Regions from separate parts of the Homo sapiens genome. Here region 2 is linked to region 1. Evidence: fine-mapped expression QTL. A gene starts in region 1. The other region holds a variant in brackets. All regions are shown on one strand. Distances are from middle to middle.

Region 1 (5,532 bases):
ACTGGGATCCACAGAACTCTGGGAGTTTTTGAGTTTCCTATGAAAACTTCAATTGCAGTTTTCCTTTTTATCATCTAAAATAAATTAATATAAGCATTTCCTGGAAATGGTCAACCACCTAATATGAGTACAATCAAGCAATTTGAGTGCCTACGCCTAAGTTGGGATATACAATAGTGTTGATGCTAATAGGCCTTCTTTAATTGTGACAAAGAAAGAATACATAATGAAGTGTTGTCACCAACTGAAGCCCATATAAATCACAGCACACCATAAAAACAAAGATTTTCCTATGGTTCAAAACAGTAAAATATTGGAAGACCTGTATCAAGGCATGGCAGCTCCCCAAAGACCTGGTGTTTGTCCCAGTACGCATTTTGTGAGCAGGCAAAAAAACAGTTTCAGGATGTTGTAAATTCGACTTTTACGGGTCTCATAATTATGTTTTAGTTTATTTTTTAATTTTGTACTCCTCTTCATCTAAAATCATCACTACAGAAGGTATACCCAGCTCTCATAATGATAAAAGTTTTTATGCCCACAAAGAGAAATAGCCAAAATACTCTTTCATTTTGAAATAAGATCACAGTGACAAATTGCAATTCTGTTTCCAATCTTGTTAACATCAGGGTGTTGTGTTACTGGGACATTCAGTACTATAAAGCGGTTCCATTTGTTTTATTAAACTTTCAATAAAGGCTTTGTGTTTGTTTATGCCCTTGAAATGAAAGATTTAAGCTCATTTAAAACAGTAAAACACCCACATAAAGGGTCATCTGCTATCCCCCTAACATCTGGCAAGTTCCAAAAAAGATGAGAACAAAATTAGCGTTGATATAAGCACAATTAAAATCTTCATCGTTGAAAAGCCATAATTTGTGCCAATCTGGAGATGATGAGAATAGAGAAGTGGTAGGTGAACAAGGAACTAGTTGCTGGAGGGGTCAGCTCCAGTCAGTAAAGAAATTAGAATTGAGAAGTGCCTTAAAAAGCCAAAATAGGGCAGAGAGGCAAGCAGGATTTCAGGCCATTACTGACATGAGCCTGAATTTGACCTGCTTACTCCTTTCTAACACTGACTCTCAAGTTCCCAACTTTTGCTGCGCCTACTTGGGATTTCCTTGCAGACTGCGTTCATATTATCCAAGACTGTTAGTGCTGTTACGGCGGTGGCAGGCACCACAGGCTGTCTGCCCACACCAACAGAACTAGCTGACACCCTGGATGAGATCTGTCAGACTTAAAAACTATTTTTAACTTCTGTGTAACTTTGAATTTTAAACTCTCAACAGTCAGAGCAATAATAGCTGAAACGTCCCAGGAGAATAACCACTCAATTATCGTAGGAGCTTTCTTGGAAACATGTGGCATGTTATTAACAGACGGTCATAATGAAAATGTTTCACAAGCGGGGAAACCGAGGAACACACAAACGACTAAAATCACATCACAAAATCTGAATACTAATGGAATTGGCTCACTCTCAGTTCTGTTTCCTATCCATTTTTTTTAAGCCCACCAGGAAATCTTGAGTCCGAAGTAAACACGGTTTTCTGGAGTGTGTCCTTCCAATGACAATGGTCATTCTAGTGCAATCTCGGGAGAAGACAGTGTAAGCCTCTCATAAGTTTAAGAAAGCGAGCTGCGTTTTACTTAACCCCTCTTTCTTCGGGGGGATGAAAAGACTCAGAAACAGGCATTTAAATGAGGCATGTCTAAAATTTTTTGATTTTTGAACATGGGAAAGTGAAGGAAAGATAAAAATATTACAGAGAAAGGGTACATTTTGATTACTGAAACCAAGACAGCTGGAAACCTGATTTCCAGAATCTGTTTGGGAACTTGAGGCAGATGTTTCTAGGAGAGATGAGAAATAAAGAAGGGTGGCGTCATTTACATGTCCAGTCCATTTTGGTGAAAGTCTTGGGAACGCATTATCACAATTCCTTTTAAAAATCATTTTGAGAAAATTTAAATAAGATGGCAAAAATACCAGCTGAGGGGGTGACGCCCCAAAGCTTTACCTTTTCCACTTTTGCCCCGATCTCCTCCCACACAAGTGGTGCTGGGATCGCGCCCCCAATTCCCCTGGCCGACGGCTCCGCTCGGCTCACAAGTGTTTCCCATTACTGCAGGCGGGACGCCGGGGAAATCGCTTTTGCCACAGAACTTGGAGAGTAGAGCGTGTGTGGAACGGGAACCCAATCACGTCCGGGCAGGGGAAAGTGGGAAAGGAAGAGCGCGGAGCCAGGCGGGGATCGGGGGATATGCGTCCGGCTGCCGGGCAAGAACTTCACCCCGATTTAACCTGCAGAGGAGAGGCGAGTAGTGCGGCACGGGAACGGGGCAAGGAGGAGGAAACTTTAGCAATGGAGGAAGGAGAACAGAAAGTGGCGAGCGAACTGCAGCCTGGCCCAAGAGCGGCCCGCTGCCGGCGGTCAGGCCGGGAGCCTTCATCCCGCGAATATGTGCAGGGCCCCCCCGCGACCCCCTCCTCGACTCCCACCTGGCAGCGGACCGGCCTGGAGCTGGAGGCGGGCTCGTCCCCGGCCTCTCCTCCTCTTCCTCTTCCTTGTCCCGGGAAGGACTTCGGGGAGCGAAGAACCGGGAGAAGCTGTGCCAGGGGGCGCTGCCCCTTCTGCGGCCGCTGGACATTTCCCGAGGGGGCCGCTGGCCCGGGGCTGTCTGAAGGGAACGGCCTAGGTGTTGCCTGGTGCCCGGAGCCCGACCGGGCGCCGCGGGATGCGGCTAGGGCAGACCGACTCGACGCGAGCTGCCAGCGCGGCTCAGTCTCTCTCGGGCAGGAGAAGTGCGGACGCGACGCGCTCCTCGCGCGGCAGCTCCTCACGCCGCTGCGGCTGCTCCTCCTCCCGCCCTCGCCCGGCGCGGCCCGCCCCACCCCGAGGAGGAGCCAGTGGCCGCGGCACCGCCCTGAGCCGGGCGCAGCCGCCACCGCTGGGGCGCTACGTGGTCCCCCGAAGGCGCCGGCCTGAGAGCCTGAGGGGAGTCGCCCAGCGTGCGACGCTAGGCTCGGGCTTACGGCTCAAACAAGTTCAGGCTGCAGCCTGTTGGGCTTTGCCTTCAATTACTTTCTGTGACCGTTGTGTTTTCTATTCTACAGTCAGAGCACAGAAACGGTTTTCTTCGGGCTTTTGAAAGAGGTTTATGAACTAAGGTTTGTGAAAACACTTGGCAAACTGCAGTACCGGGGCGCCCCGGACTTGCTGGGAGCTAAGAAACAGCTACCGCAAATACAGCTCCAACCCTGAGGGCGAAAGTCGCGTTAGCACAGAACCGGGCGGCGGGAGGGAGAAGGGGGTACCTGTCAGGCGGTCACCACCTCCCGGCGCGTTCTGCTGGCTTTCTGTGGTGTGACTTTTCCTAACCGCGCTGTGCTTCAGACTTTTCACACGCCATACTTCCCTGCGAACTCTTTCAAAAACGGCACTGATCAAAAAGTATGATTTCAAGCTTGTCAATGCTGCAACATATTTTGCAGTCGTTACACAGATGCCACTGAAATCTGGGAACCAAAGGGTGCTTAAGACTTGTTTTAAGTCTAAGTACAGTGGTATGGATTTTTCTTGGTTTTTCATACCCTATAGCAGCTAGTACAGGAGATACTGAGAGGCCCATTCACCCCAAGTGTTTTGTTTTTGTTTGAAGGCAAGCTGCCCCTGGAGTAGACGTCAAGGAAGTGATATGGCTTTTGTTCATTAAAAAATGTATACAAGTAAATGAGATAAAAATGAAATGTCCACAGCAGAGGGGAGCCTTGGAGTAATCTCCCCTCTGGCTTTCGGGTGCTGGAGGAGAAGGTTGCTCATAAGTAGATTGCATACCTATAAGCCCCAAGTCCTTTCAGCACCTGCTGGAGGCTATTGAGCCTCCCTGCCTCCCCACGCTGCCTCCCAGAAGCCCTCCAGCTCCTACTAACTGCAATAGAGCCAAGACACTCATTCTCATTTGTTCTGGCAGGATTTAACCCATTAAAGTTCAGTCAGCCCGATTTCCATCAATCGGGTTCATCTCAGTCTATCCCTCAAGATTAATCCTTTTTTACTCTTTGGTAAATTTTTCCTATTTCTCTGTGAGCCTAGTCTGAGAAAATAGAAAAAGACTAAGATAATAGACTAGAATAAGACAAGTTCCCAATTCTAGCTTTATTATTTTATAAGAGAATCTCCACTGAAGACCCACTTACCAAAAAGCCCAAAGAGAGTAATAAAGCAAACTGTTTCTTCCAGCTAAAAGGCCCAAATGATAATTTGTCTTCCCAACGTATTATTGAATGACTATCACATTTGTCCCTGACTTGTTCTGTGATCAAACCAGGCCCCAGTGCCTACCCAGAGGGTACTTCGTTCAGGAAGTTTTTCTTGGAATAAAAATGGGGGGGAGTCAATAGGATTTAATTAATGAATTATGGTTTTAACTAATAATATATCTAACAATACTCTGATCTCCACTCGGTAGCACAGCAAAGCACTTAAGTGAATGGTAAATACAAATAATGCCATGTTTACACTAAGACAAATTGCGTCTATGACAAAATAGCTTAAAGTCATAAAACAATGACCATTGAATTTTCCTTCATTTGCTTTCTGAGCACTTATTAGTTTTCTATATGTCCTACATTGTTATAACCTGAACTCATATGAACAAATTTCTAAATACTAAATTCTAAGATTGCATTAGGAAGCCTGTAAAAATGTCAAATTTTAGAGCTGTAAGGATCTTAGAGATACTAATTTAGCACAGTGTCATTAATTCACTGATCCAGTTATTCCCCGACGTTTAGTGAGTGCCTGCAGTAGAAGCACATCTACAGTGAAGCCGATGAGGCTCAAGTTTCTTGGCTCCCTGCTGGCACAGTCTCTTCCAGTGTGAACTCAGCAATGGGATCCATGGCCAGTTTTATCAAATTTACAAAAGTAAATGTTTTAATGTGATTAAGACCACAATCTCTTTTTTTTTCCACTTAGATGTCCACTTAGATTTTCTTTTCCACTTAGAGTTATCAAGAGCATTTGGGAATCTGCTAGGGAATTTCAGTTGGGAATATATTTAGTTTGGACTTAGTGGAATATATTTATGTGGTTTCCAGCCTCTCCAAAGTATAGTTATTTCTTAAATTCCAATTTGTTTGTAGCGCAGCTCACCAAGTATTACACCCAAGATGCAGAGCCAGAGGAGATATATTCTGTGGTCTCTGACACTGAAAATATGTGGGTAATAGAGGTGAGACAAGATTTGAAAGGTAAAGCAGCATCAGGTGTCATGTGGAAAATTATTCCAGGCATCAGAAGACAAAGTTTCAACAGGAAGGATTGCCTCCGATTGATGTAATTTCTCTCATAGCAATAATATATTCAATAATGCAGTATATTTAATTTTTTTTTTGAGACAGAGTCTGGCGCTGTCACCTTGGCTGGGGTGCAGTGGTGCAATTTCAACTCACTGAAACCTCCGCCTCCTGGGTTCAAGCAATTCTCCTGTCTCAGCCTCCAGAGTGGCTGGGACTACAGGCGC
Region 2 (5,000 bases), 180 kb before region 1:
TACATTAATATTCTTTAAAAGCAAGTTACGGAAGAATATATTTTAAAAATCCCATATTTGTTATTGAAGAATGTATGTATACATATTTATGAGTGCATGAGTGCTTATATACATATCTGTGCATATCGTGTGTGTGTGTGTGTGTGTGTGTGTGTGTGTTAAAAGCCTAGAAAGATTAACAATAGATACCTCTGAGAAGTAGGTACAAAAAACACTTGTATTTTTTAATTTGTTACAATATACCCATTTTTTTTAATGACAGAGATTGGTAGGAAAAATGCCGAAGGGAGGCATTTTGGAAGTTGTATTCAAATATCAAATCAATAATCATATCTGGGTTCATTTAACCATCCCTTAGTTAGGTTTCGGAAAGATTACATTTAGAAACTTATTTTAGTTCATGAGCATGTGATAGCTCTGCCTCACATTATCCACGAATCATTAAACATAATCTTCTGACAAACTCAAGTGTCTTTTTCAGACTAGTTTCCTGTTTAAATATTTTAGCTTCCTCAAAAATAATTTTTGATTTGTTTTCTTCACTCCTATCCTTACAACTACCAGCCACAACCACCACTCCCAGGTGTATAGAAAAACTATACATCTGACTCTGGCTATAAGAGTCAGAAATATAGTTATAGGACCTTAGTTTCCATTTTACAGCTGAACAACAGGGTGTTTTTTTTTTTTTCTTGGCCTTCACCACTACCGTTGCCACTGTTCAAAAATCACCACGACCTGGCAATATTAACAAGCAGATGAGGGCTTCTGCCTCCTGATCCCTTTCTCAAAATTCTCAAAATCATGCACTATAAATTTACAAAGAAAAAAGAAATGACTCCTGCCCCTAAGGGATGCATTGAATAATTATTCTTTATCATAGCATAATCTAATGGCTGAATGTGTAAGTAGTAGAAACAGACTGCCTAAGTTCAAACCCTGTCTCTATCATTTATTAGCAACCTGACCTTGGACAAGTTGCTTAATCTCTCTAACCCTTAACTTTCTCATCTTTAAATGGGTTTCATAATACTCTCTATATCATAGGGTTGTGAGGATACATGATGTCATATAGTTAAGTACCTTAGAATGTTATCTGCCATATAATAGAGGCTCAATAAATATTAGTTAGTAGCTGTCATCATCACCCTATTTTCATCCACATTATTTTGATCCTTTTCATAGAGAGTATTAAGGCCTACTTTCAAAGGGCCATTGAAGGTGACTGTCTCTAGGTATAAAAACCTTCTTTATTCTTGTCTTGGGACTGACTCCCCAAATACTGGCCCAGTCCTCCATTTCCCTGGGTGCCAACTCTCTAGCCTTTTTCTCTCTGTTATTAACTCCTCTTCTTTCTACTGTATGGCAAACTAATGGAGGCAGATGTACCCGTCCCCATCCAAAATTTAGTTCAGATGCCAAAACTGATGATGCCATACACATGACAAAAGGGTATGAAGTGATTTATTACTTACATAATGAGGCTTTCTAGAGAGAGATGGGCAGGCTCCCAAGCAGGTCTGAAATGAAAAATGGCTTGAGAAAACAGGAAGGGGCTACTGGCTTGGGTTTTTATGGTAGCTAGGGGGTGCAGCTAGGGTGAAGGCTGCCTGTCGTAGGACAAGATGCATGGTTTGAACTTTTCACAGGTGCCAAAAAGAGACCTAGGCTTTTTATTAACTTGCTCAGATGTAGGGCAGAAGGAGAAGTTGGGCTTGAGAGCTTTTAGCAGTCAAACATCAAAAATAGAATCAGACTTTTTATTGTACTACCCAAAATGAAGGCTTCACAACGTTCCAAGGCAGCACCACCTTTCCTGATAGGGAAATGGACTCCCCATGACCTGCAGGTTCAACTAAAATACCACCCCTAGTCTAAAACC[A/G]CAAGACAGAGCCACAGTTTGACTTCCTGGTTACTCCACCCTGCCCCCACCCCACCAAAAAAAAAAAAAAAGGACAACTGTTCTTCAGAAAATTATGAATAAAGAAAGGATGCAGTTAACTAATTTTATTTCAAGTTAATAATGAACAGAAAACTATATACCTTAATACTGTCTTTCTTTTGAATTTCTTTCACAGGTTTTCCTTATTTCTTTTAACCTCACAGTAGTTATATAAAGTTGTAAGGTCAGAAAGCTGTTATTGTACTCTACAGCCATCACTGAAACTCTCAGTGGTACACAGTAATAAATTGGGGCTGTGATGTAGGTGATACAAGACAATGAGAAGCTTAAAAATAATTTATATTTTAACTTTATAATGTACTATGTGATGTATATTTTATTACTCCTGGTAATAAAATTGTTTGGTATTCCTGAACATATATAAACTGACTGTTAGAAGCTTAGAACTAGGTAAGGAAGAAAAAGATAATGAGTATTTCATTGAGAATAGGATTCTAAGAGTAGAGTCTGCCAGTTCAGTGTGGGTTGGCCAGGTGTATTTCTTAGGCCAAATGCCTAAGTACTTAAGTGATCCATCTAATAGGTTTGCCGTCTTGGGTTTCTAAGAAATTACTGCTGAGACTAGCAGAAGGGTTTTCCAACTCTGCAATACCTATGATTTTTATTTTATAACTTTTGACCTATAGTCCCTGTGTTTTGAATAATGTTATTTGAAAATAAACAGCATTTATCATAGAAAAAAAATCTTGCTACTTATTCAGAAAAGATGTATTTCCATGTTTCCTCATGTATTGCCTTATTTTAGTAAAGATTTAACAAGATTAGCACATAGTTATTGTGAAATAAAGCAAGGTAATATAAATTAGAAATGTATGAGAAAAAAAAGAAAAACAAGGATAAGGTATTATATATATCCTGGTATGTGTATGTGGTCATTAAAGAATGGTGCTCAGAGAAGTCCTGTAGATGTCTGAAAATTTGGCTTTAAACTTCCTTGTAGTCAATGGGAGAGGTAAACCTGAACAAAATGTGTGTGTGGATGTCACCACAAATGGTGCTTTTAATTAGCGCAGTTAATATTACCAACGTGAGTTTATATAATTTCAATAGGAAGCAAAGAAACATCAGTTGGTTACTTTTTTGCAGATTCATCATGCACAAATTATGGTACTTGTGAGACTTTAAAATTGTAAAACTAGCTTATGGATGCTGTTTTCTTTCTCCTTTGAATCCCCAGCTGTCTCCATCTCAGGTCAAAATCCAATGACCTAGTACATACTCTGAATCTTTTCATTCAGTTAAATGTTTTTTTCATTTGTTATAGCTAATAAATGGTTTATTGGTTCTTTTATGCCATTATTAGTCATGTATTGAAGACTTTCCCTCTTGCAGAAACGCCACAATACAATATATTGTGGAGACAGATCTTTAGAGGCCATCCCACAAAAGATAACCACTATTCATCCCTGAACTGCGGGTTTGGAAGTTAAAGGGGATCTTTGAGTCAAATAATTAAGCAGACTGCAGTTCAGCTGGTTGAACAAATGTTGATGGAGTGCCAGGCCCAACTAAATGGAGATGAGTTTGTCAAATTCCGTGTCCCCAAGAGCTTGGAGTCTAAAGAAGCAGGTCATTTCACTAAGTGCAGTGTTTCTAAGGGGAAGCTTGCTCTAATGAAAACTTTGGCTTTTTTCCACAGGTTGGTACAATAGGCTTTTCATCAACTTTGTGCTAAGGAGGCATGTTTTCTTCTTTGTGCTGCAAACCTATTTCCCAGCCATATTGATGGTGATGCTTTCATGGGTTTCATTTTGGATTGACCGAAGAGCTGTTCCTGCAAGAGTTTCCCTGGGTAAATCTTTCCCCATCTTTATAAAATGTTAACATGGGAGAAAGTTCAAGGGAGGTAAATAAAATGGGTCATACATGGAGAGGAAAAGAGAGTGGTGGTTTAGTAGGGATAGTCAGAGATGAACATCCAGGTTGCAGTATCGATCTTGACATCCTCAAGGGCAAATTGTAATTGAGTTCTTTCCTTGGGAACCCGGATTTTAGGGATGAAGTCTTTGCTGACTGACCTGCAGTTGGGTGATAGTAAAGAAAGGGGGTGAAATTATGAAGCATAAACAGCCTCACTTTTAAAGCTTATCTCTTTTCTTTTTTAAGAAAACCTCCCCATGCTTTATACAAGTCCATTTAGCTTTTCAGGACAAACCCTTACATCACAGAAAGGAAAACCTTCAAACTAATTCACACTATACTCTTAGTGTATTAATAACAAATTACCTTGGTGGGTTAACAAGAATGTGGAAGGGATGCTTGAATTTGAAAATATGAATACTGATTAGAAATTAGGACTTAACTAAAAGACCAAAATCAGAATCAACCACAGTGGAATTTCAGGTACAGTGGCATATTAGTTGGCAGGAGATTTTAGGTGGAGAGACGTTGCCAGCCTCATTAAGTCACTACACAGGGTTGATTATCTACACCGTCTAACATGCTATATGCCTCTGTCACACACACTGATTTATGGGAACCATTTCAGACCCACTTAGCAGTTATTGAGATCTTAGAAAGTAGAAGATACCAAGCTAAGCACTTAGATGACATGTTACTTAATGAGAACCCAAGAGATAATCCCACTTGCCTTTTTTGCTGGTCAGGGCTGATCCCCCTCATTTTATCTGATTTTGCTCTTTCATTTGTAGTGCTCTATCTAGAGAGGAGATTGTTATTATTACAATCATTGTTACAATTATTGTAATTATCACACAATTCATTCCAGAAAGGGTGGTTTGTAAGTTAATGTTCACAAATTATATGCATACTTCAAAAGATCATTTGAAAGACATAAATTATTAATATTAACAATTTGCTCACCTCCTTTCCCTATTAAAATATTCAATCTACAAGCATTTGAGACTTGAATATCTTCAAGGAAAAAATACCATCTGAATAAGTAATTAAATTATTTGAACTGTTTCTTCACATCAGAGCATGTGCCCTAACCTCAGTACTGCAGTGTGGCAGCATAGACCCAAATACAAGACCAAGGGCACATTTCCAGCCCTCTAGACACAATGAGGAAAGCACT

Evidence for each region.
Region 2: its variant is fine-mapped to the expression of CRYBG3 in whole blood (INTERVAL, PIP above 0.99). The same link has a PIP of 0.9 or more in B cells.

The regions. Positions count from the first base shown.
Region 1 is chr3:97,819,330-97,824,861 of GRCh38, reverse strand. CRYBG3 (crystallin beta-gamma domain containing 3) reads right to left here and starts at 2,851. Exons shown (of 22, transcript NM_153605.4): 1 at 2,507-2,851. The coding sequence starts at 2,655. LOC101929298 (a long non-coding RNA gene) reads left to right here and starts at 3,086. Exons shown (of 3, transcript XR_427389.3): 1 at 3,086-3,175. RefSeq lists a silencer at 2,705-3,074.
Region 2 is chr3:98,000,370-98,005,369 of GRCh38, reverse strand. GABRR3 (gamma-aminobutyric acid type A receptor subunit rho3) reads left to right here. Exons shown (of 10, transcript NM_001105580.3): 8 at 3,603-3,755. Among named protein-coding and RNA genes, the nearest start is that of RIOX2, 30 kb to the right of the region's middle. The variant A/G (reference allele first, on the strand shown) is at 1,883.